2 linked regions of the Homo sapiens genome follow. The protein of the gene in region 1 purifies or fractionates together with the protein of each later gene. This does not show direct contact. Each region holds a gene or a part of one and is shown on either strand. Other genes may lie near its edges.

What was found.
Region 2: the proteins of ARG2 (region 1) and CPT2 purify together in Homo sapiens (affinity purification with mass spectrometry, with the first as the bait; one large-scale study listed by BioGRID). This does not show direct contact.

What each region holds. Positions count from the first base shown.
Region 1 is NC_000014.9:67,640,339-67,644,158, forward strand, and holds part of ARG2 (arginase-2, mitochondrial precursor), read left to right. Parts: intron 1-1,847; coding exon 1,848-2,025; intron 2,026-3,820. UniProt on the Homo sapiens protein: May play a role in the regulation of extra-urea cycle arginine metabolism and also in down-regulation of nitric oxide synthesis. Extrahepatic arginase functions to regulate L-arginine bioavailability to nitric oxid synthase (NOS).
Region 2 is NC_000001.11:53,210,324-53,214,143, reverse strand, and holds part of CPT2 (carnitine O-palmitoyltransferase 2, mitochondrial isoform 1 precursor), read right to left. Parts: coding exon 2,825-3,820; intron 881-2,824; coding exon 549-880; 3' UTR 1-548. UniProt on the Homo sapiens protein: Involved in the intramitochondrial synthesis of acylcarnitines from accumulated acyl-CoA metabolites.

The sequences.
Region 1 (3,820 bases):
CTTTAAGAATAGGTCTGGGTGACACAAGGGCTGGGGAGGAAAAAAAGAATAGGACAAAGTTTTCTGTCTTGTTTCCAATATCTCTTGCGGTGGCAATTCCTTGGTTGGCCTCATGGCTTTTTGTTATGGTCACTGCTCCTCAAATTTTTATATTTCTTCAGAATTTTGGCTTTGGATTGAGTTTGGGTTCAAGAGGTAGAGCTCAAAATTATAATTTAAATTCATGATGAGTCCATGCTGCTCTTAATCCGAACCTTTAACACAAATCTCTGCAAATATTAAGATACGCCACGTCTTATCTTGTTACTGCCCCTTTCCCACCAATACCAGGACCCTAAGAATATAATCTATGTCAATGTTCTGTTCTCTGATAGTTCAGATCCCTTTTTGATACAGTCAGATTATTTAGTCCTCATCCTAAATGTAGCATCCAACTTAGGTGGGGAAATATTCAAAGCTGTGAGAATATAGCACTAGTTCTTAAAGTGTTGGACTCATGAGGAATTCCTTAGGAGACAAACTGCATAGTAAAGGATAGAGGTTGAGCGTCCCTAATCCAGAAATCCAAAATCGGAAATGTTCCAAAATCTGAAACTTTTTGAGCACCAATATGACATTACAAGTTACCCTGAACACACTGTATTAATGGTATGTCATATTTTCTGCTTTTAAGTACTTATGTGTGAAAAAGTAAGAAAATAACTGCCTATCAGTAGCATATAAATTCAGAGTCAGGAAGATGGTGATGCCAAACAATCATATTGTCCACATGGGTGGCTGTGATAGTGACACCTTTGTTTTCTGATGGTTTAATGCACACAAACTTTGTTTCATGCACAAGATGATTTAAAATATTATATAAAATTACCTTCAGGCTATGTGTATAAAGTGTGTATGAAACACAAGTTTTGTGTTTAGACTTGAGTTCCATCCCTAAGATATCTCAATATATATATAATGCAAATATTCCAAAATCTGAAAAAAATAAAAAATCTAAAACACTTCTGGTCCCAAGCCTTTGGATAATGGGTACTCAACCTGTACAAACTTTGGAGCCAGATGGCCTAGATTTGGATCCTGATTCTGGCACTTAATAGCTGTGTAACTTGGGCGGTTACTTCTCTTTGCTTCAGTTTCCTCATCCACCAAATAGGCACATTTTAGTTGCCTCACACAACTGTTTTGAGTCTTAAATAAGAATTTATGTTAAGCAGCTAGAACAATGCCTGGGATCTTGTAAATAATCAATAAATATTAGATATTTCTTTTAGGATGTTTCAGATTGGCTATTTATAAAAGTTTATAATATGTGAATTTCTTGGCCAGGCAGGTGGCTCATGCCCATAATCCCAGCACTTTGGGAGGATGAGGCGGGAGGATCAGTTGAGGTCAGAAGTTTGAGACCAGCTGGGGCAACATAGCAAGACCCCATTTCTACAAAAAGAAAGTTTAAAAAAATGAGACTCTCTTTGTGTATTTTTTTGCTAAATTAATAGTACTTAATTTCCTTTAAAATTGTTGGTTCTTAATTTTCTTTAAGATTGTTGGTTCTTTTTGATATTTTATTTCTACTCTATCACTCCAGGATATCTGAGGTCTAATGGTTAACCATTTTTTTATTGTTGGGTTAAGTCAATCGATATCTCTTAGTTTCAGTTTCCAACATCTGCAAAACTGTTCATAATAGGATCGAGATAATCTTCCCACAATCATTTGACATTTTAAATTTTACTGTGACAAAATGATTATGATGTGTACTTTGTCACGTATTATCATTGTGGCCCAGGCTAGTTAAGAGTTGGAGATAGCACAGAAAATTCATCTTGTCATCCCTCATTTGCTTCCAGGCTGCCACCTAAAAGACTTTGGAGATTTGAGTTTTACTCCAGTCCCCAAAGATGATCTCTACAACAACCTGATAGTGAATCCACGCTCAGTGGGTCTTGCCAACCAGGAACTGGCTGAGGTGGTTAGCAGAGCTGTGTCAGATGGCTACAGCTGTGTCACACTGGGAGGAGACCACAGGTAAGCTGGGAGCCAGGCGTGGTGAGGGGATGGATTACATGGTGCTTGGGGCTCATAACTTAGCTTCTTTATCTGTTTCTTCATCTGGAGAAAAATACCCTACAGAATTTTTAGGGTAGATATTAAAATGAACAGCAAGCATTTAAATGTCTAAGATCCTGAGCTGCTCAAGGGGCACTGTGGTTTTCTTTGTATGACACATTGCACAGTAAGAATATGTACATTCAGACACAGCAAGTTCAGAGGTATACTAGGCAAGGTTCCTAGGCACTGTGTTAACATGCTTGTCTCCTGGAAAGCTTTCTTGAGACTTATCTTATGACTTTGGAGAATTAGAAAGATCCATTGATAGGCTGAATGTGCAAGTTTTTGTTAGCATTTCTGCTAATAGACCTGTTAGAAATCCCCTTTGGCATGTTACTACATTTTCTTTTTTTTTTTTTTTTTTTTTTTTTTTGAGATAGGGTCTGGCTCTGTTGCCCAGGCTGGAGTACAGTGGCATGATCTCAGCTCACTGCAACCTCTGCCTCCTAGGCTCAAGCCATCTTCCTACCTCAGCCTCCCAAGTAGCTGGGACTACAGGTGCATGCCACCATGCCTGGCTCATTTTTGTATTTCTTGTAGAGACAGGGTTTGGCCATGTTGCCCAGACTGGTCTCGAACTCCTGAGCTCAAGCGATCCTTCTGCCAAGGCCTCCCAAAGTGCTGGGATTACAGGCATGAGCCACTGTGCCCAGCTGTGGATACATTTTCTGCCTCCACAATATGGACCCTAGTGACTCATGCAATCAGTCCTTTGATCCTGTCTCCTCCTGAATCAGCATGTACTTTATTGAGCACTGTTCTGATATTTTCTCAGCAGTGCTAGAGATTGCAGGAAATTTGTGATATATTAAGGCCTAGATGAAATAAATATACATGGAATAAACAAAAATATTGAATTCTACAGAATTTCAAAGGAGGAAGAGATCAGTCTGGACTAAAATAGATTTCACAAGGGAATGTGATTTGAAATAAGCAATGAAGGTCTTCAGTAGGAAGAAGGCACTGAAGTACTAGGAGTATTGAGCACTCCATACATATTCTCAGTTAATTCTGCTAACAATGCTAGGTGGTAGATATGGTTTTATCATTTACTGCTGGAAGCATGTAGGGACAGATATATAAGAACTTATCCAAGGTGGGCACAGTGGTGCATGCCTGCAGGCCCAGCTACTCAGGAGGCCAAGGTGGGAGGATTGCTTGAGCCCAGGAGTTTGAGGCCAGTCTGGGCAACACAGTGAGATCAGGTCTCTTAAAAATAAATAAATAAGAAAGAAAATATAACTTATCCAAGGACTAGAACCAGGAAATAGAGCTGGGATTCAAATCCAGTGTGACTCTTCTGGTGATTATTTTCCCTGAGGTGCTGAGAAAGCTTTTCAGATCACTGAACAGAAATGAAATCTTTGTTACATCTGGAGAAGCAGGTAGATTCCTCCTTGGGAGTAAAAAAAAAAAAAAAAAAAAAAAAAAAAAAGACTCAGGTTGAAGAAAACGGTCACACCCAGGTTCCCTACTGAGATGACTAGGCCATTCAATTAAATCAACCAGAGGGCAAGTCTCCTGCCTCCTTTCTCAGTGTAGTCTCTGGAAATTTATTAAGTCTGTCTGCTGTTCTGAGTTCTGGTCAAGTCTCACTGTTTGGGGACCACTGATCAATGTGATTACCACAGATCTTGTTTTCTTTTCCTGTGGCTATCTATATTGCAGCCATGTTACTGCTTACCAGCTCAATGTTAAAGCTTAGGCAATC
Region 2 (3,820 bases), on another chromosome or scaffold:
GTTTTCCAAACCTTTCCTCCTGATTAAATGCCCTTAAAACTTAAATCTCTTGTTATCTTCAGTTGTGATCTAGTCCCAAGTGGAAATTACGTTTAGCTTTAAAACCATGAATTTAAAGCTCAAGCCTGTAGCTGGCTGCCTAGGCAGCTTATGATTAGTTTCACAGAATAGCACCCACTGGCTACACAGGCCCCAGTTTTTTTTTCTTTTTTGTTTTTTTGAGACAGTCTCGCTCTGTCGCCCAGGCCGGAGTGCAGTGGTGTGATCTCAGCTCACTGCAACCTCCACCTCCTGGGTTCAAGCAATTCTGCTTCAACCTCCCAAGTAGCTGGGATTATAGGCACATGCCACCACACCCAGCTAATTTTTGTATTTTTAGTAGAGACAAGGTTTCACCATGTTGGCCAGGTTGGTCTCAAACTCCTGACCTCAAGTGATCCACCCGCCTCAGCCTCTCAAAATGCTGGGATTACAGGCATGAGCCACCATGCCCGGCCTCCCAGTTTTCATGATGAGGAAGTGATGGTAGCTTTTCATCTGCCCAGAAGTTAACTTTTGATGGATTTGCCTTCTAAGGCATCAAACATGTCTTCTAAGGCCTTCTCCACACATTGGAGAAACTCCCGGGCATTGCGGCCTGGGTAGGAAGAGACATTGCAGCCTATCCAGTTGTCATGAACAGCATACCCAACACCAAAGCCATCAGAGACCACAGGGGCAAAGCCCCCAAGGTTCACTGCTGGGCTGCTCAGTGTGCTCGTGGACAGGACATTGTGGTTTATCTGCCCGTATGCAGGGTCCAGGTAGAGCTCAGGCAAGATGATCCCTTTGGCTGCTGCCAGATGCCGCAGAGCAAACAAGTGTCGGTCAAAGCCCTGGCCTGTGAGAAACAAAATGGAAAACCAGAGTCTCAGGATGGAAAAGGACCTCAGGAAAACCTCCCAACTCACCACATGGTAGGAATACCCCTCACAGCATCCTTGAGAGTGGGGGAAGGCTCTACCTCTATGCACACCACCAACTGACTAACCTTCAGAGCAGCTCAAGCTAGATTATTTTAAATTATTTAGGAAATATATTATGTCATGTTACATTTAAAAATAGCTGTCAACAGCTGAGCTAAAAATGAGCCTAAAAGGAAAGCATAATTTTAAAGATGTGAAATCAGTTTAGTCAAAGAGTCAAGACAGTACAGGAAGACAGCTATGGACTCAAAAACTACAATAAAACTAAAAGTCTGATTCAAGTGTAAAAGAGAAGATTGAGTCAGTGGAACAAAATGGAAAGTCTGTTTGACCAGGGTTCGAATCTCAGTCTTACTACTAACTTGCTGTGTAACGGGGCCAGTGGCTTGGTTTTCTCCCTATAAAATGGAGGAAGAGAAGATTAGAATGTCTTGGAGGTCCCTTTCACTTCCAGCACTTCATAGCAACATGAAAGGACAACTATGACCCTCCAGGTCCTTTCCAGGTCTTGAATTTTATCAAAAAAAGGTAATGACGGATGACAATTGAGAAGAGCTTCTGAGATAACCTGTTTACAGAGAGCAGACACATTACAACTGAGGTGAAGCTAGTGGGGCCGTAAGTTTAGAAATCCTAAATTTTCAAAAGTGAGTCTGATAACCAATCAGTAATAGAAAAAGGTTGGGTGCAGTGGTGCATGCCTATAATCCTAGTGCTTTGGGAGGCCAAGGCAGGAGGATTGCTTGAGCCCAGGAGTTTGAGACCACCTTGGGCAATACAGTGGGACCTCATCTCTACAAAAAATTTTAAAAATTAGGCCCGGCATGGTGGCTTACGCCTATAATCCCAGCACTTTGGGAGGGTGAGGCGGGTAGATCATGAGGTCAGGAGTTTGAGACCAACCTGGCCAACATAGTGAAACCCCGTCTCTATTGAAAATATAAAAATTAGCTGGGCATGGTGGCATAAGCCTGTAGTCCCAACTACTCAGGAGGCTGAGGCAGGAGAATCGCTTGAACCCAGGAGGCAGAGGTTGCAGTGAGCTGAGATTGTGCCACTGCACTCCAGCCTGGGCAACAGAGCAAGAGTCCATCTCAAAAAAAAAAAAAAATTAAAATATCAGCTGGGCATGGTGGTGCATGCCTATAGTCCCAGCTATTTGGGAGGCTGAGGCAGGAGGATTGTTTGAGCCAAGGAAGTTGAGGTTGCAGTGAGCCATGATTGCACCACTGTACTCCAGCCTGGGTGACAGAATGAGACCGTGTCTCCAAAAAAAAAAAGGCCAGGTGCGGTGGCTCACGCCTGTATTCCTAGAACTTTGGGAGGCTGAGAGGGATGGATCACCTGAGGTCAGGAGTTCAAGACCAGCCTGGCCAAAATGGCAAAACCCCTTCTTTACTAAAAATGCAAAAACTAGCCAGGTGTAGTGGCGGGTGCCTATTATCCCAGCTACTTGGGAGGCAGAGGCAGGAGAATCACTTGAACCTGGGGGTGGAGGTTGCAGTGAGCCGAGATCACGCCATTGCACTCCAGCCTGGACGGAGGGAAACTCTTGTCTCCAAAAAAAAAAAAAAAAAAGAAAGAAAAAAGAATTAATGCGTCACAGCTGAAAGTGACCTTAAATGAGGACAAAGACACATGCATTTCCCCACCCCTGCTTAGGAGGCAAGAACATTCTGATCCCTAGTGGCTAGTGTGGCTGTTCAGACTGCTAGGGTAGAAAAGAAAAATTTGGGGAGTTGGCGATGGATTAAACCTAGTGAACGGGTAGAAATCAGATTTGGAGTAGAATGATTTAGGCTTGCTTACCCAAGCACTGAGGACAAGACCCAAGGGCATGCTCCCCACCCCTGCCTCACCCATTGCTGCTTCTTTGGTCAGCTGGCCATGGTACTTGGAGCACTCAACCATCATCTGCTGAAGCTCACCAGCACTGTGCCTGGAGGGCTCCCTGACAAAGGCCTCAGAGCACCTCTTTGTATAGACGGAGGCCGGGCGGATGGTCTCAGTGCGGCCGTGCTTGAATGCGGCAGTGCTACAGGACTCGTAGGTGGCCACTGTCTGCCCGTACTGCCGCAGGAAGGCCATCTGGAATGCCAGCTGGGCAACTGCGTCAGGGCTCAGCTTTTGCTTCTTCAGGAATTCTTTGCCTCCTCTCTGAAACTGGACGCAGTCAATAGTGAGGGTTTTCATGGTGGCATCAAACTTTTCCTTAGCAGCTGTGATGCCAGTCTTTAAGGCATCAGTCAGCTCGAAGTTGAGTTTCTGCACCGTGACAGTAGAGTCAGTGGTAGCTGGCTGGCTCTGTGGAGTGACGGCAGGGGTCTGAGTGCTGTCTTTAAATACTTCATTAAAAAATCTGAGCACTGCCACACCATCACCCCAAGAGTGCTCAAAGTGGACGGCAGTAGAGCCATCCTTGGCGATAATGAGGTTAAAGGATTTATCAAACCAGCGGTTTGTGCCATCCCCATGCAGCATATTGTGGGACAAGTGGACAAGGTCCTTAATGGGGAAGTCATCTAGGCAGAGACAGAACACTGCCGAGTCCACTTTCCTCAGGCTCTCCTCATTGCCACTACTCATCAGCTTCTGCCTGAGCTCTGCCCAGATGTCTCGGTTCTCACTGGTCAGGTATGCCAGGGGAAACTCGGGGGCGGGGCTGCTGTCTGAGAGAATGTACTTCAGATGTGCCTGGATTTCCGAGGGGCTCACAATGTTCCCATCTTGATCCAGGACATCAAAGATATAAAAATTTCCTTTCCTTAGGACCAGGAGGTGTCTGGCCTTGTCATCAGTGAAGAGTTCATCCCGACTGGGTTTGGGTAAACGAGTTGAGTTGAAAAGCCGAAAAT